Linked DNA regions of Homo sapiens. The protein of the gene in region 2 interacts with the protein of the main gene of each other region in a pairwise test. Each region holds a gene or a part of one and is shown on either strand. Other genes may lie near its edges.

Region 1 (9,399 bases), on a different chromosome or scaffold from region 2:
TGACAGAGACTTTGTCTCAAAAAAAAAAAAAAAAGAAAAGAAAAGAAGGCCGGGGGCAGTGGCTCACGCCTGTAATCCCAGCACTTTGGGAGGCCAAGGCGGGTAGATCACGAGGTCAGGAGATCGAGACCATCCTGGCTAACATGGTGAAACCCCGTCTCTACTAAAAAATAGAAAAAATTAGCCAGGCGTGGTGGCGGGCGCCTGTAGTCCCAGCTACCCAGGAGGCTGAGGCAGGAGAATGGCGTGAACCGGCGAGGCGGAGCTTGCAGTAAGCCGAGATCATGCCACTGCACTCCAGCCTGGGCGACAGAGCGAGACTCCATCTCAAAAAACAAAACAAAACAAAACAAACAAACAAACAAAAACAAAAAGAAAAGAAAAACATGTTTGCAATAATATGCACCTAGAACCTGACTATTTTGTTCATAAACACAAATTTTTTTGGCTCCAAGAATGCAAGGACCACGAAAGTCTGGGCTTTGTTTTGTTTGCAAATTGCAAATGTTGTTCACAAGTTTGGAAAATGATGTCCCCAGAACCTATGTTGCTGTCTTTGCCTCACCAGTGCCCTCCTGTGCGTTCGTTGGTGCTTGTTGCTGTCAGTACAACAGCACCGTGACACTCTACTGTGACGCTAGGACAGGCAAAGACACGGGACAACCTCATCATGTGTCCTAGTGGGGCATACCCAAGCATTACCCATTGAAAACATGGTTTATTGCTGTGTAAGTTACTCTCACTTTCCTTCTCCTTTGTACTAGTTATGGCATCATACTATTATTTTATTTTATTTTTTTATTTTGTGATGGAGTCTTGCTCTGTCGCCCAGGCTGGAGTGCAGTGGCTCGATCTCGGCTCACTGCAACCTCTGCCTCCAGGGTTCAAGCAATTCTCCTGCCTCAGCCTCCTGAGCAACTGGGACTACAGGAGGTGCCACTATGCCCAGCCAGCTAATTTAAATATATATATATTTTTTTATTATTTATTTATTTTTTATTTTATTTTATTTTATTTTTTATTTTTTTTAGTAGAGATGGGGTTTCACCATGTTGGCCGGACTGGTCTCGAACTCCTGACCTCAGGTGATCCTCCTGCCTCGGCTTCCCAACGTGCTGGGATTACAGGCATGAGCCATAGCACCCTGCCCCAATACTATTATTTTAAAATAATCTTTGTAAATCTGTGTAATTACCTCTTTCATCTTGAATTAGGACAGGTGGCATTGCAAAATATTAGTTTTTAGAAGTGGGTACTGGGCTGGGCACACCTATAGTCCCAGCACTTTTGGAGGTTGAGGTAGGAGGATTGCTTGAGACCAGGAGTTTGAGACCAGCCTGGGCGGCGTAGTGAGACCCCATGTCTACATAAAAAAATTTTTAAAGTTGCGCATCCTGATGCACACCTGCTGTCCCACCTACTCAAGAGGCTTAGGAGGGAGGATCTCTTGAGCCCAGGAGGTCAAGGCTGCAGTGAGCTGTGATCATGCCATAGCACTCCAGCCTGGGTGACAGAGCAAGAAACTGTCTCTCCTCCCCCCACCCCAAAAAAAAGTGGGCCCTGGAAAAAAAAATGCCCTACATCTAATCAAACCTTTAAATCTTACAGCAATTATGGGGATAGAGAAACATGCTGCATGAAACCATGAGGTAAGTCGAAAAGAATGTGAGACATACCTCAGGAAAAATGACCCATTTTTTTTGCCCTCTAATGGCTTCAAACAAGAGGCAAGGGGGATCTGTTACAGAATAAAAGAGACTTAGGAACAAACGACCGGTAGGGCGTGGTGACTCATGTCTGTAATCCCGACACTTCGGGAGGCCGATGTGGGCAGATCACTAAAGGTTAGGAGTTCAAGACCAGCCTGGCCAACATGGTGAAACCCCCTCACTACTAAAAATACAAAAATTAGCTGGGCGTGTTGGTGGGCACCTGTAAACTCAGCTACTCAGGAGGCTGAGCCAGGAGAATCGCTTGAACCCAGGAGGCGGAGGTTGCAGTGAGCCAAGATCACGCCACTACCCTCCAGCCTGGACAACAGAGTGAGACTCCATCTCAAAAAAAAAAAAAAAAAAAAAAAGAGAAGCAAACAACCAAATACCTTGAGTAGATCTTTGGATTTCAATTTGAAGAAACAACTATTCCTCCTTCCCCCAGCTCTATCGCCTGGAGTGCAGGGGCATGCTCACAGCTCACGGCAGCTTTGATTTCCCGGAGTCAAGAGATCCTCCCATCTCAGCATCCTAAGTAGCTGGGACTATAGGCATGTGCCACAACACCTGGCCAGAAACAACTGTCAAAAGAAAATTTAGGGCTGGGTGCCATGGTGGGCACCTGTGGTCCCAGCTACTCAGGAGGCTGAGGTGGGAGGGTCAGGAGTTCAAGCCCAGCCCAGGCAAAATAGGAAAACCCAGTGTCCAAAAAAAGGTTCAGGCACAAACAGGGGATTTGAATATTTGAATATAGACTGGGTATTTTTTCTGTTTTTGAGGCAGGGTCTCGCTCTGTCACCTAGGCTGGAGTACAGTGGCATAATCACGGCTCACTGCAGCCTTGACCATCCCAGGCTAAAATGATCCTCTTGCCTCAGCCTCCCAAGCAGCTGGGACTATAGGCAGTCACCACCATGCCCAGCTAATTATTTGTAGACACAAAGTTTCAACATGTTGCCCAGGCTAGTCTCAATCTCCTGGGCTCAAGCCATCCACCTGCCTTGGCCTCCCAAAATGCTGGGATCGCCAGCAGGAGCCTCTGCATCTGGCCTGGATTGGATTTTTTTTATATCAAATATTTCTGATTTTTTTTTAAGTATGAACATGAAGGTTATTAAAAAATAAAAATAAAAGGGCCGGGCGCCATGGCTCACGCCTGTAATACCAACACTTTGGGAGGCCAAGGTGGGCGGATCACCTGAGGTCAGGAGTTCGAGACCAGCCTGACAAACATGGAGAAACCCCCCTCTCTACTAAAAATAGAAAATTAGCCGGGTGTGGTGGTGCACGCCTGTAATCCCAGCTACTCGGGAGGCTGAGGCAGGAGAATCACTTGAACCCAGGAGGCAGAGGTTGAGGTGAGCTGAGATCCTGCCATTGCACTCCAGCCTGGGCAACAAGAGCGAAACTCCGTCTCAAAAAAAAAAAAAAAAAAAGTAAGCCTGTTGTCAGACATGTGTACCCAAAACATTTATGTATGAATTGACATAAGCCCGGGATTTGTTTTAAAATCATCCTGAAAATATTTTTTTGTGAAATTGATCATCGTTGATGATAGGTGATGGATGTCTGAATGTTCTTCATACTATTCTCTCTACTTTTGTATATGTCTGAAATTTTCCATAGCAAAAAGTGAACCCAAAATAAAGTTGTTAAAATAAAATAGATGAGCATGGTGGTCATCTACTTTCTTCTAAACTACATGGTGCAAGTGTAGTCTTAGCTACTCAGGAGGCTGAGGTAGGAGGCTCACTTGAGCCCAGGAGTTCGAGTCCAGCCTGGGCAACAGAGCAAGACCCTGTATCTAAAAATAAAATTCATAGTCGGGTGCGGTGGCTCACGCCTGTAATCCCAGCACTTTGGGAGACCGAGGCAAGCGGATCACGAGATCAGGAGATCGAGACCATCTTGGCTAGCACGGTGAAACCCCGTCTCTACTAAAACTACAAAAAATTAGCTGGGCCTGGTGGCGGGCGCCTGTAGTACCAGCTACTCAGGAGGCTGAGGCAGGAGAATCACTTGAACCCAGGAGGTGGAGGTTGCAGTAAGCCAAGATCGCGCCATTGCACTCCAGCCTAGGCGACAGAGCGAGACTCTGTCTCAAAATAAAATAAAAGTAAAAATAAATAAAATAAAATAAAATGAAATAAAGTGTGTCCCAGGGCCTAGCACATAGAAGGTCTTAAACAAATGTTAATTTTCTCCTCTGACCTCAAAGAAACTAGGGCAGCACTTTCCATATAATTCTCTGCAATGGTGGAAAAATTATCTATCTGCTATGTCCAGTGTGGTGGCTGAGCACTCAAAATGTGGGTAGTGGGATTGAAGACCTGAATTTTTGCCTTTGCTTGACTGGATTTTGAAAAAGAAAAAAAAAAAAAAAAAAAGCGGGCCAGGCATGGTAGCTCACGCCTGTAATCCCAGCACTTTGGGAGACCGAGGTGGGTGGATCACCTGAGGTCAGGAGTTCAAGACCAGACTGACCAACATAGTGAAACGCTGTCTCTAATAAAAATACAAAATTAGCTGGGTGTGGTGGCAGGTGCCTATAATCCCAGCTACTTGGGAGGCTAAGGCAGGAGAATCTTTTGAACCTGGGAGGAGGAGGTTGCAGTGTGCCGAGATGGCGCCACTGCACTCCAGCCTGGGTGACAGAGCGAGGCTCCGTCTCAAAAAAAAAAAAAAAAAAAAAAGGGCAGGGTCAGGCACAGTAGCTCACACTTACAATCCCAGCACTCTGAGAGGTTGATGCTGGAGGATTGCTTAAGCCCAGGAGTTCGAGACCAGCCTGGGCAACATGGCAAGACCCCATCTCTAAAAAGAAAAGACCTGAATTTTATTTAATTTTAATTAATTAATTAATTATTATTATAATTTTGTTTTTTGGTTTTTTTTTTTTAGGCAGAGTCTCGCTCTGTCACCCAGGCTGGAGTTCAGTGGCTTGATCTCAGCTCACTGCAAGCTCCGCCTCCCAGGTTCGCGCCATTCTCCTGCCTCAGCCTCCCGAGTAGCTGGGACTACAGGCGCTCGCCACCACGCCCGGCTAATATTTTTTTGTATTTTTAGTAGAGACGGGGTTTCACCATGTTAGCCAGGATGGTCTCGATCTCCGAACCTTGGGATCCGCCCCCGTCGGCCTCCCAAAGTGCTGGGATTATAGGCATGAGCCGCCGCGCCCAGCCAATTTTAATTAATTTAAATAGCGACAGGGGCTAGTGGATACCACAGTGAACTATGGAGCTCTAATGACTTGGAATCAGCTGGAGAAATCATATATATATATATATATATATATATATATATATATATATATACACCTATATATATATACCTTTATATATATATATACCTTTATATATATATACCTTTATATATATATATACCTTTATATATATACCTTTATATATATATACCTTTATATATATATACCTTCATATATATACATATATATATATACCTTCATATATATATATATACCTTTATATATATATACCTTTATATATACCTTTATATATATATATACCTTTATATATATACCTTTATATATATATACCTTTATATATATATACCTTCATATATATACATATATATATATACCTTCATATATATATATATATATACACCTTCATATATATATATATATATATATATATATATATATATATACCTTTATATATATATAAATAACTGAGACTTTGTCACCAGGGATAGAGAAGTGGCTGCTACTTTGTAAATTGGACAGGAAGGTGGCCACTATAATCTGGAGATTAAGCGATGGGGATTAGGGATAGAGATGCTTTTGTGATGTGGATCAGATCAAATACAGATGGGTGAAAGATGATACTTCCTAAGCAGGATGCAATTATTCAGCAAACTAATCTGTGTTGTTCCTGCCCCTGGGGACAGAGCTGGGAGCAAGAACAACAGGTCCTCCTCTCATGCACTCACAGCCTATGAGATGAGCAAAAGCCAATAATCAAGTAAGGAGGCTACGCATGCACAATGGCTTATGGCTGTAATCCCAGCATTTTGGGAGGCCAAGGCAGGCAGATCACTTGAGTTCAGGAGTTTGAGACCAGCCTGGGCAACATGGCACAACCTCACCTTTACAAAAAAATTAGCCGGGCGTGGTGACATGCGCCTGTGGTCCCAGCTACTCAGGAGGCTGAGACAGGAGAATGGCTTGAGCCCAGGAGGTGGAGGTTGCAGTGAGCCAAGATTGTGCCACTGCACTCCAGCCTGGGTAACAGTGCGAGACTCTGTCTAAAAAAAAAAATAGATAAAAAAATAAAATTAAATTAAATTAAATTTAAAAAGAAATTCAAAAATAAGAAAAATTTTACAGGCTAGGTATAGTGGCTCGCGCCTGTAATGCCAGCAGTTTTGGAGACCCAGGCGGGAGGATCACCTGAGTCCAGGATGTTGAGCCTGCACTGAGCCATGATGGAGACACTGCACTCCAGCCTGAGCAACGGAGCAAGACCCTGACTCAAAAAAAAGAAAATAAAGACAAGTATCAAGGCAATGGTTTGTAGCTAGAAACACAGAGCATCCTGACCCAACGGCACCAAGGAGGGAAAAGTATTAGACACATGCTAATACTTCAGACAAAGAATTTGTTTTTTTTTTTAGACGGAGTTTCGCTCTGGTTGTCCAGGCGAGAGTGCAATGGCACGATCTCGACTCACCGCAACCTCCGCCTCCCGGGTTCAAACGATTCTCCTGCCTCAGCCTCCCGAATAGCTGGGATTATAGACATGCCCCACCACGCCCGGCTAATTTTGTATTTTTAGTAGGGATGGGGTTTCTCCATGTTTGTCAGACTGGTCTCAAACTCCTGACCTCAGGTGATACACCATCCTTGGCCTCCCAAACTGCTGGGATACAGGCGTGAGCCACCACGCCCGGCTGACAAAGAATTATTATCCCCATTGTAAAGATGAAGAAATTGAGGCTTAGAGTTTAAAATCTTGCTTAAGTTTTGTAGCTCTGAGAGGGGAGAGAAAGCCTGTGTGGGAAGAAGCAGACAGGAAAGGCCTTCTCAGAACACGACTGGATCTGAAAACCCCTCACCTGTCCACACCTGAGGCGGCTCCTCTTCCTGCTCTCGCTCAGCCTCCTCCAAAAAATCTTCCAGAAGCTTCTCTGCTTTTTGAGCCTCAGCACTCCCTGGGGCCGCCCAGCCCAGAAAGGTTCGGACACTGCCCAGGTCCGAATGGGCAGGGTGGTCTCGGAAATCCTGAGGGTGGTCCTGCAGCCAGGAGCCCAGCACTGACACCACAGCCCTGGCCAGAGAGGCAGGGTCTCAGAGCTGGGTCCAGAGTGGGGGACATAGAATATGACTCCTGGTACCTTTTTTTTTTTTTTTTTTTTGAGATAGAGTCTTACTGTGTCACCAAGGCTGCAGTGCAATGGCCTGATCTTGACTCACTGCAACCTCAGCCTCCCGAGTAGCTGGGACTACAGGCATGCGCCACCACACCCAGCTACCTTTTTTTGTTGTTGTTGTATTTTTAGTAGAGACAGGGTTTCGCCATATTGGCCAGGATGGTCTCTAACTCCTGACCTCCAGTGATCCACCTGCCTCGGCCTCCCAAAGTGTTGGGATTACAGGCATGAGCCACCACGCCCCACCTGACTCCCAGTCTCTTATTACCCAACCTGCAATTTTCAAAACCCCAGTCCGACTGCTAACCTTTGACCTCTTGGATTTCCCTCCCCGCACTCCCCTATCTGGATGAAGGACCCACCTCAGGTTCTTGTTGAAGCTCAGATCTTGTACCGCTGTCTTCTTGATCTCTACCCTGGGAAGAGGCCCCCCAGCAGGTGAAGAAGGGGGAACCTAGAGGGGGCTTAGGAAGAGGGCTCTGGGTCTGGGAGGTGTTTCCAGGTTCCACACCTGAGGAGGTGGAGGGGGGTGCCCAGTTGGGGTTCTAGGGTGGAGAATACGGAGGTTATGGTTCGCTACTGACCCGGGAGGTGGGGGCGGTGGCATTGGTGGCAGCAGAAAGCCCAGCAGGCAGGCAGTGGGTACAAAGGTCCGGTAGGTGGCCAGGAAGGCGGGCATGAAGCTGGGGTCCTGCTCACGGTCTCCAAACACCAACTCTCCCACCAGCCGCTCCAGGCGCGCTGCCCTCAGCACCCTCACCTTGCTGGTTCGATAGTGGAGGAAGGTATTGGCAATGGGGCTGGGAGCCTGCAGGAGGGGAGAGGTGGCCATGAGAGAGCAGGAGTGGTCCTCACAGCACCCCTTCTCTAGTCACATTCATCACTAGCACCACTCTTTTTTTTTTTGTTTTTTTTTTTGAGACAGAGTCTCACTCTGTTGCCCAGGCTGGAGTGCAGTGGCACGATCTTGGGTCACTTCAACTTCTGCCTCCTGGGTTCAAGCAATCCTCCTTCCTCAGCCTCCAAGTAGCTGAAACTACAGGCGCACACCACCAAGCCCAGCTAATTTTTGTATTTTTGTAGAGATAGGGTTTCACCATGTTGGTCAGACTGGTCTCGAACTCCTGACCTCAAGTAATCTGCCCCCCTTGGCCTCCCAAAGTCTCCCAAAGGGCTAGGATTACAGGCGTGAACCACCGTGCCCAGCCCCTAGCACCACTTTTTTTTTTTTTTTTTTGAGACAGAATCTCACTCTGTCACCTAGGCTGGAGTTCAGTGGCGTGATCTTGGCTCACTGCAACCTCCGCCTCCTGGGTTCAAGCAATTCTCTGCCTCAGCCTCCCAAGTATCTGGGATTACAGGCACCCGCCACCAAGCCCAGCTAGTTTTTTCGTATTTTTAGTAGAGACGGTGTTTCACCGTCTTGGCCAGGTTGGTCTTGAACTCCTGACCTGATGATCCACTTGCCTCGGCCTCCCAAAGTGCTGGGATTACAGGCGTGAGCCACCTCGCCCCGCCTGTAGCACCATTCTTTCATGTGATTCCTCTGTCTCCCGGCTTCTTGGAGTTATTGTTTTGGTTTGTTTTTTTTAGAAACAGGTCTTGTTTTGTTGCCCAGGCTGGGGTGCAGTGGCACAATCATAGCTCACTGCAGCCTCCAAGTCCTAGACTCAAGCGGTCCCTCTGCCCCAGCCTCCTGAGTAGCTGGGACCACTGCTGGGCATCATCACGCACAGCTAGTTTTTTAATTTTTATTTTTATTAGAGAGAATCTTGCTGTGTTGTCCAGGCTGGTCTCCAATTCCTGGCCTTCTGCCTTGGTCTCTCGAAGCGCAGGGATTATAGGTGTGTGCCCCACTCCCTGCCCGCTTGAAGTTATTGTTCCTCCCCATCCACAAATAGCTCCTGCAACTTGCCCTGGAAACCCTCCCTCTCCCATGCCCTGTCCCCTACTCCCTCTCCCGTCCCCTCCCCCTCCCGTCCCCTCCCCCCACCCCCCCGCCCCCGCCCCACACACTCTTTTCCACCCAGGGCTTCCCTCAGCCCTCCTGTCGCGCTTCACTGGCTGCCCCATCCGCCCTCACCTAGCCACTTCTAAACCAACCCCATTCCACCTTCCAGCCCCGGCCCTCTAAACCTGCCTTTCCCAACTCTGCCGTCCAGTTCTGTCCTTACCAAGTTGTCCCTAGGCTCCTCTCGGGAACTGCGCGGCCATCGCCTGGCCCCACCCCATTCCCTGGATCTCCCCCCACTTACCTGGCCGCCCCCAGTCCCCTTTCTACCTGGTCGCCTCATCTGGT
Region 2 (16,396 bases):
GGGTCTCACTATTAGGCTGATCACAGGATCATAGCTCTACTGCTGCCTCAAACTTCCTGGGCTAAAATACTCCTCCCACCTCAGTCTCCAGAGTAGCTGAGACTGCAGACACATGCCACCATGCCCAGCTAATTTCTATTTTTACTTTTTTATGGAGACAGGATCTGGCTATGTTGCCTGGGCTGGTCTTGAACTCTTGGTCTCAAGCAATCCACGTGCCTTGTCGTCTCAAAGTGCTGGGATTAGAGGCATGAGATACTATGCTTGGCCCCTACTTACCTGTTAAGTGGGATCATTACGTATAGCGTACAGCTATGGGAAAAGAAATAAAATGAATTAAAACAAGTGGTGATAAACAGAAGAGGAGCAAGCTAGACAAAGTATATACAACCTTGTTACATCACATTTTAAAAGTCAAATGATAAAATAGTCAATAAGGGCACAATCTATGCCAATAAGGGCATAATGTCCAACTCTGAGATACTGTAAATCTCTAAACAAACAATATAGAAAGAAAACACCTAGAACACAAATTCATGACCATCCATTCAGGAAATGCTGTCTGAAAGAACTTCCACATAAAGAGACTTAAGAGATTCTAAAGAATCGCTCAAATGCTAAATGTGCTATAATAAAGCAGGGCTGGCAAACCATGGCCTGTGGGTCAAATCCATCCCACCATCTGTTTTTGTACAGAATGGTTTTCACAACTGCAAAAAGAGAGTCATATTTCATGACATATGATGATGACATGAAACACAAACATCAGTATACACAAAGTTTTATTGGAACACAGCCACATTCATTTAGACATTGCTTATGGCTGCTTCAGTGCTATAATGGCAGGCTAGACTAGTTGGGACAGAGATATAGCCGCCAAAGCCCAAGATGACACTTACAATCTGGCCCTTTATGAAAAAATTTGCAAACTCCCAATTATAGAGAAAAAATGGCCACATAGACAAGGACTATTCATTCCATGAGACTGTCCACTCTTTTTAAGAAAAGTTTCAAGTCAGAGATTTAAAAAGCTACAAGGCAAATGGGAAACACTTCAACTTCCAATCACAATGGAGTAACAGGAACCAGATTAACCCTCCTATCTTAGACAATTTAAAAACTGGACTAAGCCGGGCACAGTGGCTCATACCTGTAATCCCAGCACTTTGGGAGGCTGAGGCAGGCGGATCACGAGGTCAGGAGTTTGAAACCAGCCTGGCCAACATGGTGAAAACCCGTTTCTACTAAAAATACAAAAATTAGCTGGGCATGGTTGTGCGAGCCTGTAATCCCAGCTACTCAGGAGGCTGAGGCAAGAGAATTGCTTGAACTTGGAAGCCAGAGGTTGCAGTGAGCCAAGATCGCACCACTGCACTCCAGCCTGGGCAACAGAACATGACTTTGTCTCGGAAGAAAAAAAACTGGACTAGTCGGGTGTGGTGGCTCACGCCTGTAATCCCAGCACTTTGGGAGGCCGAGGGGGGCGGATCACCTGAGGTCAGGAGTTCGAGACCAGACTGGCCAACATGATGAAAGCCCATCTCTACTAAAAATACAAAAATTAGCCAGGTGTGGTGGCACATGCCTGTAATCCCAGCTATTCGGGAGGCTGAGGCAGGAGAATTGCTTGAACTCAGAAGGCGGAGGTTGCAGTGAGCTGAGATCGCACCACTGCACTCCAGCTTGGGCAATAGAGCAAGACTGTGTCTCAAAACAAAAACAAAAACAAAAACAAAAACCCTAGACTAAATACATTCAGACATTGTACACCAGGTAGCAAAGGACTACAATCCTGATGGAAGGGAAAGAAGTTGGGTAAGCCTCAACACTGCCCTGGCCATCTGCCTGGAGGCACATTCCAGACTGTAGAGGGGATGGGGGATTCCATGTAGAACACAAATGTTTCCCTGGGCTGAAAGGAGACATTAAAGAACAGGAAGTCTGAAACAACTAGAAGTCACAGGACAAAGTTGTGCTGAGAAGACAGCTACACATAAAAAGAGATCCAAAAACATGCATAGAGTTTATGAGTCTTTGCTGACTATTAAGATACATATGTCTAGGATGAAAACTCCAGGAGGTTGGGCAAAGAATGACCCAGGAACTGTGAATAGAATTGTTCCCTAGAGCTCACACGGGGCTGGGAATTCTTTGAGTTCCCACAAGCCAAATTGATAATTCAGGGCATTCAGCAGACAGACCCCAAAAGGGTCATACTTTAGTAGTGGAGCTAAACTAGCCTGGGAAAAAGGCTACTTGAGACTGTATTAGCTTTAAAAGAGATCTCGAAAGGATCAAACTGAACTGCAGTCAGTAAATTAACTATCAGAACGAAACCCAACAAAGACGCCAACAAAATCTAGATACCCAACAACATAAAATACACAATGTCCTTCATCCAACCAAAACTTACTTGGCATGTGAAAAAACAAAAAAAATGTGACCTATAACTAGAGAAAAATCAGTCAGTAGAAACAAATCCAAAAATTATACAAGCAATAGAATCAGCAAAGACTCAAAACAGCTATTATAACTACATTCAAATATTCAAAGCAGTCTTTCTCAATCACAGTTCTGTAAGAGAATTGAGCCCCACAGAAAGTTATTTGAGGAACTATTTTCTTTATTTTCCCAAGGATGGTACATGGCTGTGCCATTCTAGATGCAAACGTACAATGCAAATTTTCCAGATGCAAATTGGGCCCTAATGCCGTATCTGTTGTGTGTTAATTCAGGGCTCAATGTTCTGCAAAACCAGTTGAGAGGGGCTGGTTAAGAGGAATACATGAACATAATGAGGAGAAAAACAAAATATATATATATATACCCAAACATAATTTCCAGGGGGAAAAAAACCCACAAAATCCAAAATGAAAATTCACTGGATAGGATTCATAGCAGATTAAACAGCAGCAAAAGAAATGGTTATGGGGATCGGGTGTAGTGCCTCAAGCCTGTAATCCAAACACTTTGGGAGGCTGAGGTGGGCAGACAGCTTGAGTCCAGGAGTTTGAGACCAGCTTAGGCAACAGGGCAAGACCTCATCTCTACACAAAGTATAAAAAGTAGCCAGGTGTGGTAGAATGTGCCTCTGTAGCCCCACCTACTCAAGAGGCTTAAGGGGGAGGATGACTTTGAGCCCGAGGCAGGTTGCAGTGAGCCAAGATGGCGCCACTACATGCCAACCTGGGCAACAGATCAAGACCTTGTCTCTACTAAAGAAGGGGAAGAGGGAGGGGAAGAGGAAGAGGGAGGGGAAGGGAACAAGCAGGGAGGGAGGAAGGGAGGGAGAGATGGAGATGGGACTTGAAGATGTAGTAATAAAAACAATCCAGCCAGGCACGGTGGCTCACGCCTGTAATCCTAGCACTTTGGGAGGCCAAGGTGGGTGGCTCACGAGGTCAGGAGTTCAAGACCAGCCTGGCCAAGATGGTGAAACCCCACCTCTACAAAAATTAGCCAGGCATAGTGGCAGGCACCTGTAATCTCAGCTACTTGGGAGGCTGAGGCAGAGAACTGCTTGAACCATGGAGGTGGAGGTTGCAGTGCAGATCACGCCACTGCACTCCAGACTGGGCAGCAGAGCGAGACTGTCTCAAAAAATAATAATAATAATACAAAGTAAAGCATAAAGAGGAAAAAAGGTAAACTGAGATAATAAAAGTTGATGGGTTTCTCATTAAATCTGGATATTATGTAAGCAATCTCGTTATCTGAAGTTAACTAAAACAAATAAACTTTGCCAACTGAAAGTACTACCAAGGATACATGATAGTGCTACAGTAACAAAAGCCACAGGATAAACATGGTATCTTCCTGGGCAGTAATTGTACTAGAAGACATGGAAGATAATTCCATATCAACATAGTTATACTATCAAGTACAGTGCATAATTACACAATTTTTTTTTTTGAGACACAGTCTCAATCTGTCACCCAGGCTGGCGTGCATTGGCACGATCTCAGCTCACTGCAACCTCTGCCTCCCAAATTCAAGTGATTCTCCTGCCTCAGCCTCCCAAATAGCTGGGATTACAGGCACCCGCCACCACACCCAGCTAATTTTTGTATTTTTAGTAGAGATGGGGTTTCATCATGTTGGTCAGGCAGTCTCGAACTCCTAACCTCAGGTGATCCACCTGCCTCAGCCTCCCAAAGTGCTGGGATTACAGGTGTGCGCCACTGCACCCAGACAATTATATTATTTTTACTGGTCTTCAAATAAATGTGTGTGTGGCTTTAGCTGTTTTCAGTTTCATCTTCATGGGGTATCTGTGTAGGTATTCACCTTCCTCTACAGTTGGGTTTCTATATCAGGAGCACTTCATAGAAAAAGTTTAAGAAACACGGACTTAAGTAAATATTCAACAAGTCAAAGAACATCAAACTGTTTCACATCCCCTCCACCTGCTGAATGACCAATGCTGACTTCTAGATTCAAACCCTAAGGCACTGGAGAAAAGGAACAGAGCTACTAAAGTAAGTTTCACTAACACTTGTTCCCTTAAGAAACCACTTAATTAACACAATGAGTAATCAAACATCATCTTGTGATAACAGATCAATTTTAATTCTAGCACCTGAAGCTATACAAGGGTATGCTCTATAAACTTCATGGGACTGTTGTACACACTTGATAAAGTGACAACTGTGCAATACCACTTAGCATCTCAAAATCAGGAACATACTATTGAATTGCTTAAACACAATCCACAGAATTAAAAACAAAATCAGATGCCATCCACAGTTATACTAATTATCCATTAAAAGCTTACACTTAATACTTGAAATAACAATCAATATCTAGCAGGGAATACTGAAAGTGATTTCAGAGTCTCATCCTGTTGTACTCTATTGGGAAGGTTTCTTGAGTAGTTATGTGACTGGCCAAAGATGGGTACAACCAAGACCAGACCAGCAAGTAAAAGTTCTACCACAGTTTCTGTAGTTTCCACTTGTTTTTCTTTGTCAGTTAAAAGTGAACAGTGAGAATTAAATACTTATCTTTACATATACACAAGGTATGCTATGAAAGCATATCTGCTTACAAACATATAAAAATACTTGTTAACTAGTTTGATAAGAAAATAATGTATAAAAGTATATAGCAAAAACATTAATCATCTCTGACCCTGGAAAGATCAATTCCATATTTTATATTACAAACAAAAACAGTTTTAGTTTTTTGAATCCCTTACCCAGAAATACTTGAAAAGGAAGACAGAAGGAAATTATTCCTTTTTACCCTTAGCGTGGCTGTGAAAAAGAGTTAAATTAAAAAATCAAGTACACTGAAATATCTAAGTCCTAAATGAGTCCAAATATTTGACCACATAGAATATTATCATCTCCAAGAGTAGGAGTAGTAACACAGGGTTTTATAAGCAGTTTTTAATCCATAAATACAACAGGCATTTGGTATTTTGGCCATCAGAAAACAAAAGTTGTAGTATCAGTAAAGGTCTGAGATGGTTCACTTTTGTAGATTCAATTCAGTGTATTTAAGGTTAACAAAGGCTGACATTGAAATGTTTAAAGATAGGCAAAAATTCACATTAAAAAAAACCCTATATTTCTATTTAGAGTAACAGTAGGCAGTATGATTCCAAAAGTTAAAAATTATTTCACAACCTGTAGCTTCAGCTTGGCAAACAGCTTAGATTCCAAAACTGATTCATCTCTATTAAAATGTAAGCACTTAAAAAAAGAGCATGTCTGTGTATATAGACATATATTTTAAAGGAATCAGATAATCTTTGAAGCAGCCTTAGTGTTTCCTTTAAATTTGTCTGGAAATGACCATTGTATTAGCTTCACAGAAAGGACTAGCCAGCTTCTTCGTCTAAGGCTAACATGGTGATCATTTGTCTAAGGCTAGAAAGGTACCAACAAGATGTAAACTGAGGAGAGAAAGAGAAGATGAGGGCTTTTCCTGGCCGTTGGTAGCTAAAACTGAAGGGATTCTAGAAAATGACACAATGGCAGCCTTTCTTGTCTTTTTCTTTCCGTGTTGGTTCTGGTGAAGGAGGACATTCCTGCTCTTGAAATTTCCTGTAAGATAAAAAATTCTAAAATATAATTGCCTTCTTGGTAATCTACTATTACAAACACAGGTTATTTTTTGTACAAGTTCACTTTTAAGTGTGTATGCTTTTCAGTGTTAAACTTCAACGAGGGAATTTCTCTCTTTCCTACCCCCACCAAAAAAGGGCACAAACGCGTCAACACCAGCACAAGCAGAGCTATGAAGCTGCTTTAATGGATGAGTCCTGAATCAGACGAGATACTAGACTCAGTAATCTCTAAGTTCCCATCCCAATTTGAAATTCCATGACTCTAAGGTATCCTTAAGAATAAAGATTCATCATTAGAGTGCAATATAAAATTAACCTTATGAGGTATGCAGGTCTTATCTGTGTTCTGCCATTTTTTAAATTCAGTATTAGACAAAGTTAGTTGACCTAGTCTGAGCCCCAGTTTTTTTAGAGGGGAATAATGGAAACCTACCTTTCACAGCTGTTGTGAGGATTAAAGATCTTGTGATGTTAGAATATATCTAATAGCTCCTGGCATTAAAAACAAAACAAACAAAAAACCTCCTCTACTTCTCCCCTCATTCCTGAATTACTGATGGGTAAGGAGAGATCCTAAGAACCAAAACAAAGGACAACATTTCAAAACGGCAGTCATAATTATTTTAAGAAGGCACTGCCTCATCAGTTGCTTAACACTAAAATGGAACTGGAATGGGAAAGGGGGGTAAAATACATATAACATAAAATTTTCCATCTTAATCATTTTTAAGTATACAATTTGATGGTATCAAGTATATGCATGATGTTGTGCAACCATCATCGCCATCCATCTCCAGATCTCTTTTTCATCTTATAAAACCGAGACTCTTACCATTAAAAAAAAATGGGACTGGGATTTTTAACAAACTACTAAAAAAGAAAAAGCTATAACCTTCACTTTTTTTTCCTCCACAGAAAGACAATGCCTTGGCAAGGAGCTAATAAGTAGAAGATCATCGCTCAGGTGTCAATTTACCTTAGATACAAAATAAATACGCAGCCCAGGTGCGGTGGCTCACGCTGTAATCCCAGCACTTTGGGAGGCTGAGGCGGGTGGAACACGAGGTCAGGAGTTCGAGACCAGCCTGGCCAATATGGTGAAACCCCATCTCTACTAAAAATACAAAGATTAGCTGGATGTGGTGGCAGGCGCCTGTAAATCCCAGCTATTCAGGAGGCTGAGGCAGAGAATTGCTTGAACCCAGGAGGCGGAGGTTGTAATGAGCCGAGATCACACCACTGCACTCCAGCCTGGGTGACAAAGAGAAACTCTGTTTCCAAAAAAAAAAAAAAAAAAAAAAAAAAAAAAAGCAGCCCACTTCACATTCCTATCAAACTGTCTAACTAGCAGAGAATCCCAGATCTACAGAGCAGAGTATGAAACAGGGGCCAGGCATCAAGACCCAAAATAATAAATCAAATCCTACTCACTAAAGCAACTTCATCTTTCTCACCCACAAACGTACCTCGTAATTCTATCAGACCTCACCCAACACCTTAAGCTTCCTGGAACCCGTTAACACTTTTTAAACCAAAAGGCCCCCTATGGCATCTAACAGAAAAATTCTCTGTTGTGTGGGACATTATACTTCACACCTTACAGGATTATTTAATCTCTACTACCTGGTTTACTCTTAGCCTGGGATGAGCTGGATAAAAAGAAAGGTAGGAGCACAGGCTCTGGAATCAGAGGTTTGAATTAAAGCCCCAGTTCTGCCATTTAATATGTCTTAATTTGAACAAGCTATTTAACTTCTTTCTCTGTACCCCCATTTTCTCCTCTGAAAGTGAGGATAAAACAGTATTTAGTTTATTGGGCGAGGGTGAGGATTACATGTAATAATACACGTAAAAACGTTTAGCACAGAAGCTGGCAGAGACTACCATGCAAAAGTTAGCTGCTGTCATCACTATCTTCACACCATCACCCCCTTTGGAAGCAGCATTTATTCTTATCAAAATCCTATGTGTACTTTATACTTCATAATTAAATTATATTTTATATTCTAGAAGTGCCTAGAATATGTACTTAAAAATTGTAATGCACCATGTGCATTAATCCCTAGAAAGGAATCACTTCCATATAAAATATCCTTACTAAAAACATTTAATAGTAATTTATTAAAACACACATCTAGAATGTGTTTTGCTTACCTGATAACCCGGACAAGTTCATGGAAAGCTTGATCTACATTCATCCTAATCTTTGCTGATGCCTCCATGTATGTTACCTTAAGCTGCCGTGCTAACTGTTGTCCTTCTTCCTGTGTTACCTGAAATTCCAACAGTTATGTTTATGGTACATTATTAACAACTGGATTTGTTCCATCTAATCCTGGCCACAGATTGTGCTAATAATTCAGCCAAGAGGCCAAGTTGTTTTATCATAAGGTGAAACAACAGACTTAACAGCTCAAGATAAACTAAAGCCCACCTCTGCAGAACAATGCAGAAGAACATATCTGTGATGGAAATACTAGCCTACAACAATATTTCCAAATACAGATCACACAAAAAGTATTAAATACAACAGTAATACATTCTGGGAAGGGAAAGTGTAAGGTGCTATTAAAGTATACAACCCTGTCAGGGAGATGAGCGAAAGCTTCCCTGAGGAAGTGACATTTAAGCCCAGAAGATAACAGAGTATGGAGTTGAGGGGTGGAGGGTGGGGGTGTGAAGAAGTATCCTTGCCAGAGAAAACTGAATGTGTGAGGCCATGAGAGTGAATGGGCTTTCCAAGAACTAAAAGAAGCGTCACATAGCTGGAATACATTAAGCAAAGAGAGAAAATGGCAAGAGGTGAGGATGGAGAAAAGTGTAAGTTTCAGAGGCCATAAGGTCTCTTCATCATTGCATTCCCCAAAACCTGGTACACAGGTGACACTCATCAATATGTGGGGAGAAATGAATTATGAATGCAATCACAGGCCCTCACAATGCCTTATATTTTGGAGATCAAGGAAAGGTGGCATAGCTGATTGATGTATAAAATGGCAGGTCAGAATAAGAAAACATAAACTGAATGTAAGTTCCTACATGTTTTAAATGTAAGGATTTGAATAGTGATGTTTACTAAAAATTATTAAACTCTATTACATTTACATTTATATAGTGGGGCTTAAAATTATATTTCTGAAAACAATACCTTTTATGGCTATTATTACAAAAGTAAACACCTGATGAAAAATTAGAAAAGCCAAATTGGGGGGAAAAAAAAAATCAAAGAAAATTTAAGAACCTATCAACCATAGAGAATCATGTTCTTTTGGTCATTTTTCAATGATACATAGTTTTTAACACTATAAAAATAGGATCATAATTTTTGTATATCTCATACTCTGGAAGCATTCTGAACTCATTTATCTAGGAGTTCTTTTGTAAATTCCACAGGCATTTCTACATAACCATGTCATTTGCTAATAAAGACAATTTTATTTCTTGCTTTTTGATGTGGATATCTTTTATCTCCTTTTCCAGCCTTAGTGCACTACCTAGAACCTCCAGTACAATGACATAAGTGGTGACGGGAATACTCTTGACCTATTTTGGATCTTAGAAACAAAGCTAGTTTTTCAACATTAAGTGTGCTGTCAGTTAGAGAATTTTTTTGTAGATGTCCTTTCTCAGGTTAACAAAGTTCTCCACTACTCCCTTTGCATAAGGCGTTTATCAGGAATGGATGGCGGATTTGCCAAATGTTTTTTCCTGCATCTTACTGAGATGATTATATGATTTCTCCTTTTTAGACTGCTAATATGATGAATTATATTGACTCACTGTCAAATATCAAACCAACAACCCATTGCAGGAATAAACTCTCCTTGAGTGATATATTGCCCTTTTTATATATTGTTAAATTCTATTTAATATTTTATTAAGAATCTTTATATCTGTGTTCATGAGAGATATTGGACTGTGGATTTCTTATGCTTTCCTCTGGTTTGGGTTTCTGAGTGCTATGCTGGCTTCACATAAGTTGCAAAGAATTTTCTCTCCTCTTCAATGTTCTGGAACACTTTGTACAGAATCAGTAGTATTTCTTCCTTAAATGTGTGGTATAATTCACCGGCAAATCTATCTGGGCTTGAAGTTTTCTTTGAGGTACGTTTTTAAAACAAACTCAATTTATTTTGTAGATAAAGTACTACTGATATTATCTTTTTTTTTCCCTTGAGTGAATTTTGGTAGTTTGTGCCTTTCAAGTAATATGTCCATTTCATTTAACTTGCTGAATTTATTGGCATAAAGTTGTTTATAGTATTTATTATCTTTCAAACATCTGAAGGATCTAAAGTGAAGATACCGCTCTCAATCCTGATATTGTGTCTTTTCTCTTTTTTATCTGATCATTCCGGCAAGAGTCTTGTCAATTTGACTGATCTTCCAAAAAGCCAGTTTAGGGTTTTTATTTTTTATTTTTTTTGGTAGAGGTGGGGTCTCACTATGTTACCCAGGATGGTCTTGAACTGCTCTGCTGGGCTCAAGCAATCCTCCTGCCTCAGCCTCCCAAAGTGTTGGCATTACAGGCATAAGCCACTACACTCTGCCAGTTTTTCTTTCCTTTATGGTTTTACTATTTTCCATTTCATTGGTCTTCATTCTCTTATTATTTCCCTTCTACTTACTATGGGTTTTAATTTTCTCTTTTTCTTCTTATTTCTTAAGGAAGAAACTAAAGGTCATTGAATTGAGACCTTTGTTCTAATACAAATATTTAGTGCTACAAATGTCTCTATATATACTTCTTTAGTAGCATGCTATAAATTTTGATGTTGTGTTCTAATTTTCATTCAGTTCATGATACTTTGTAATTTCCCTTTTCATTTTCTTGACCCAAGGGTTAGTTGGAATATGTTAATTTCCCAATATTTGAAGATATCCTAGATACCTCTCTGTTATTAATTTCCAAGTTAATTCTACTGTGGTCAGGAAATTACACACTATCTGACTAAAATCCTTTTAAATTTATTGAGGCTTACTTTATGATCCATTCTTCTTTCAAAAGAAGGTGCATTCTACTGTTGTTGGGTAAAGGGTACACTTAATGTCAATTAGGATATGTTGTGTTCAGTATTGTTGTTCAAGTCATCTGTATCCTTACTGATTTTCTTTCTACCTTCCTATCAGTTATCGAGAGGGGTATTGAAGTCTCTGATTTTAAGTGTGAATTTGTCTATTTTTCCTTGTAGTTCTTAACATCTTGCTTCAAGATTTTTGAAGCTATTAGATCACGAATGTTTGGGACTGTTATGTCCTCTTGAGGAATTAATCTCTTTATCATTATATAACACTCTTCTTTATCTCTGGTAATAGTCTTGGCTCTGAAATCTTTATCTGATATTCATATAGCTACTTTAATTATTTTCATTATTGCTAGCCAGGCAATCATGAAAATAATTAAAGTAGCTATATAAATATCTTACTCCATCCTTTTACTTTAACCTTTGTGTCTTCACATTTAAAGTAGATTTCTTGTAGCATCTTGTTTTTTTATTCAATCTAACACATCTGCCTTTTAATTGAGACATTTGGGCAATTTACATTTAATGTGCTCATGGATACAGTTGAGTCATCTTGCTATTAGTTTCCTATCCATATTATCTATTCTTTGTTCTAGTTGTCTTCTTTCTCTACCTTCTTTTGGGTTAGCTGAGTTGTTTTTATGATTGCATTTTACCTCCTTTGTTGGTTAATTAACTATATATCTGTTATTTCAGTGGCTGCTTCAGAATTTATGGTATACATTTTTAATTCATGACAGTCTAATTCAAATGATACCATACCAATTCAAGTATGGTTTAAGAATCTTACAACAGAGCCAGGTGCAGTGGTGTATGCCTAAAGTCCCAGCTACTTGGGTGGCTGAGGCAAGAGGATCACTTGAGCTCAAGAGTTCAAGGCCAGTCTGGGTAACACAGTGAGAACCCGTCTCTCAAGAAAAAAACAAACTAGTTAACAACAATATTTCTCCCTCCTGCTCTTTTTTGTTATTAACTTTTACTTCATAATGCGTTTATTTTTGCTTTAAATATTCAGTTATGGTAAGAGTAATTTATATTTATCCACATAATTACCATCTCTGGTACTCTGTATTCATTTTCAGATTTCCATTTGGTATCATTTCCCTTCTGCCTAAGGACATCTTTTCACATTTCTTGTAATGCAGATCTGCTGCGGATGAATTATCTCGCTTTTACATGTCTGGGAAAAGTCTTTATTTCATCTTCATTTCTGAAATAAATTTTTAGTAGGTAATGAATCCTAGTTGATAGTTTTTGCTATCAGTACTTAAAAGATTCTGCACCACTATCTTCTGGCTTCACTGTTCAATGAGATGCAATGATGACTCCTGCCATCCTTATCTTTGTTCTTCCATATGTAATGTGCTCTTTTCCCCCCGTCTGGCTATTTTTCAGATTTTTTTCTTTACCACTGATTTTAAGTGATTTCATTATAATGTATCTTATAATTTTCTTCATATTTCTTGTGCTCCGGGTTTGTTGAGCTTCTTGGATGTGTGTATTTTTCATCAAATGTGGAAATTTTCAGCAATGACTTCTGCTGTTAATCCCATCCAGTGCATTTTTCATGTCAGACATTGTAGTTTTACTTCTGAAAGTTTGATTTGGATCTGTTTACACCTTTCATGTCTCTAACATGTTTTCTTGATTGCATAAAATAACGGTCAAAATAACTGTTTTAATGTCTCTGTCCACTAATTCTATTATCTTTGTCATTTCTGGATCTGCTCCTATTAATTATTTGTTTCCTTATTGTGGGTCATATTTTCTTGCTTCTTTATATGTATGGGAATTTCTGAGTAGAAGGCTGGGACTTTTACGTATCAGGTATCAGATATTTTGTATTCCTAAACACATTCCTGAGCTTTCTTCTAGGATGCAGTTATTTGGAAATACATTATCCTTTCAGGTCATGCTCTAGGTTTTGTTACAGGGTACCAGAACAGCATTTAGTGTGGCTAATTTTGCCCCACTACTGGGACAAAACCCTTCTGAGTTATACTATCCAATACTCCAAGAAATATAAGGTTTTCTACTTTGATTGATTAGAATATGAATTATTCCTAGCCCTGTTTGAGCTCAAGGTATTGTTCCTTCTAAACGTTTTAGGTAATTTGTTCTCCCAGTTTAATATTCTATTCCAAAAATTTAGCAGCCTCAATACAGTATCATTAGTTTAGTACACCAATATACATATATCCAACAACTACTTCATAACTGTTTGTGCCCTGTGGCATTCCAACAGGATAACGGGCAGGTTCTACATAGCACTGGTATATCTAAGTTTATCTAACTTTTAAATTTACCTTGTCTCTCTTCAAAATAACGTATGTGCCACAAGGCTATGCATTTGAAATATAAACTGATCAAGTTACCCGAACAATTAACGATAAGGAAGGAAGCCGAGTAAACACAGAAAGCTTCACAGAACCACCAATTTTAGACAGGACAATTTCTGTTTTAGGAAAATTTGACATGTGAAATTCCTTCATATAAAATACCCCTATGCCGTCACAAATTCTGTTTCTTCTTCCTGGGATGTCATCCCTTCTCTCTCAACTCTACACTCTCAAATTCTTCCTCACTAACCTTTCAAGCCCTGAGCAATGAAACTTCCCCCTAAGTGTTGGTGCTGTTTTGGAAGCACCTTCTCAGAGCTCCCATCACACCATCTGGTTACCACTGACAAGTCTCTAACAATACCACAGTAAAATTTTTCGTTGTGTTTTCTTATTCTTTCACCACGTCATCATGTCCTCTGAGGCTAGGAAGTTAAGACAGGTTTGTCTTTGTACATCCAAAGCTTAGAAGCATGCTTAGCAGCTAAAAAAGTAAACACATGTTAAGTAAATGGTGTACAACTAACCAAATAGGTACATCCTTAAGTTAAAATATATATATATACACAAAAAGTAAAAGAAATCTCAATAAACTACTTACTTTGTTGGGGTAAATATGATTGGGGGAAGGAAATACACGTACTTATTAGAATTTTTCCAGTAGCTTTCCTGCTCCATTATTCCTCAAAAAGATACCTTGTCCTACCCATCATGCATAATGTAATTCACATAAACAGGAATAGCAACTCACCTATCCTTATATAGGGTAAAAAAAGTTAGGCCAGGCATGGTGGCTCATGCCTGTAATCCAAACACTTTGGGAGGCCGAGGTGGGTGGATCACCTAAGGTCGGGAGCTCAAGACACGCCTGGCCAACATGGTGAAACCCTATCTCTCCTAAAAATACAAAAAGTAGCCGGGTGTGATGGCACGGGCCTGTAATCCCAGCTACTCGGGAGGCTGAGGCAGGAGAATTGCTTGAACCCGGGAGGTGGAGGTTGCACTGAGCCAAGATTGCGCCACTGTACTCTAGCCTGGTTGACAGAGCAAGACTCTGTCTCAAAAAAAAAAAAAAAAAAAGAAGAAGAAAAAAACGAAATGTTAATTAATTCATGGTCTACATGATAAAACAATCCTGCTGCTAGGGTTATGTGCTTCACTTGTTTTTGTTTTGTTTAGTTTGGTTTTGGGACAGGGTCTCACTCTGTCACCCAGGTTGGAGTGCAGTGGCATGGCCACAGCTCACTGAAGACTCAACCTCCCAGTCTCAGGTGACCTTCCCACATCAGCCTCTTGAGTAGTTGGGACTACAGGCACGTGCCACCATGCCTAATTTTTTTTTATTTTTAGTAGAGGCAGGGTCCTGCCACGTTGTCCAGGCTGGTCTTGAACTTCTGGGCTCAAGGGATCTGCCTGCCTTGGCCTCCCAAAGTGCTGGGATCACAGGTGTTTGCCACCATGCCCAGCCATTTATTTGTTTTTAAAGCATGGTTTCACATCACTGTCTTCCAGGAAACAAAGCCAACAAATTTATACATACATTTCTGGTGAAGAAATCTCTAACCACATGCTTGTGAGCTGACACAGCATACTTTTAACTAAGTAGAAATAGCATTGCCATCACCAAAGCAAACAATAAAAGACAAAAAGGACAACATACCGGAACAGAGCCATAGCACTGTGGAAGTTAGAAATCAAAAGAAAACTGAAAGTTACAAAAGTAAGTACTTCCTAGAGGTTCCTCAACCCAGATAATTTCATAAAGATACCAAATAATATTAAGCCTCATCTCCTGGATATTCTGATTTGGTAGATTTTAGCACTTCCCAGACATGTTTTGTTTTAAATAACCAGGGCAAATCTGATGCAACAAATTCACAGAACTACATTTGGAAGCTTCCAGTAAGACTCAGTTCAAAAACACAGGTAGCAGCAGCAGTTCACAATAACATGTATGAGCTCATCTAGTACTACATATTTCCAAATAGAATAAACTACATTTCAGTGCTCAGAGTTATGTCAAGTTAATGAAGTTTACAGAAGCAAAACTTGTTTTCACAAACATCTATTATGTAAAAAGAATCATCACATTAATACAACGTCTTAACTCACTGGCACCCAGATTCATCCACCCAACAAATACTTATTTAGTGCATACCTCTGTTCTATATGCTAACGATAAAGCCTGAACAAAATTGACCTGTCAAAACCGAGAAACCCTCATAGTACCTACACCTACATTCACCATCTAAACCCTTTTAGACGCACATAAGGCACAGATAACGCCACATGTGGTAAGATCCTCTACTATTTGAGGAGGGGTTCTTTTTCCTAGGAGGCTGTAGGGGGCACACTGGTCAAAAGTACTGACAGATGGGAGTCTGGATTGATATACTTAGCTATCTATTATTTTAAGTATAATAAGTTATTTTCTCAAATTAATAGTAACGATTAATAATTAAGCAACTAAAAGGAGGGGAAAAAGAGGGAACAACCAAGGTAAGCCAGGAGAAAGATGGTAAAGACAAAAAAGCAAAGACAGTTGATCTCTAGACAGGGCTGAGTTGAGGACAAGGAACTTGAAATCAGATATATCATGAAATTCCACTGTCTAAGCCAACATACTGTGCTATTTAATTTCAGATTCAAGTGTTGTTATATTTACCTACTTTCATATTTTAGCAAAGTTAAGCAAATCATTTACCTATGTTTTCTTCCTACACCTTTAGCAGAATAAACAAAATGACTGGCATATCTTAAGGGACCAGATGGCTGGTAATACTAAACAACCACTCAAATTCTACAGATATCTTTTTATCTCACGTAAACCTCAGTGACTATTCTGTCTACTGCTGCATCATCACTGCCTAGAAAAGGTGTTCAATAAATACTGGATGAATGGATGGAAGGATGAAAGAAGCAACCCAGTCCACAGATACAGAGGCCATAAGCAAGCAAGC

Evidence for each region.
Region 1: the proteins of RRAS2 (region 2) and RGL3 interact in binary tests that used the Homo sapiens proteins (3 or more experiments, as listed by UniProt).

Annotation. Positions count from the first base shown.
Region 1 is NC_000019.10:11,409,152-11,418,550, forward strand, and holds part of RGL3 (ral guanine nucleotide dissociation stimulator-like 3), read right to left. Parts: intron 7,909-9,399; coding exon 7,685-7,908; intron 7,517-7,684; coding exon 7,463-7,516; intron 6,998-7,462; coding exon 6,786-6,997; intron 1-6,785.
Region 2 is NC_000011.10:14,273,375-14,289,770, forward strand, and holds the end of RRAS2 (ras-related protein R-Ras2), read right to left. Parts: intron 8,347-16,396; coding exon 8,228-8,346; intron 7,188-8,227; coding exon of another isoform or gene 7,050-7,187; intron 6,051-7,049; coding exon 5,963-6,050; 3' UTR 4,548-5,962; downstream 1-4,547. UniProt on the Homo sapiens protein: GTP-binding protein with GTPase activity, involved in the regulation of MAPK signaling pathway and thereby controlling multiple cellular processes. Regulates craniofacial development.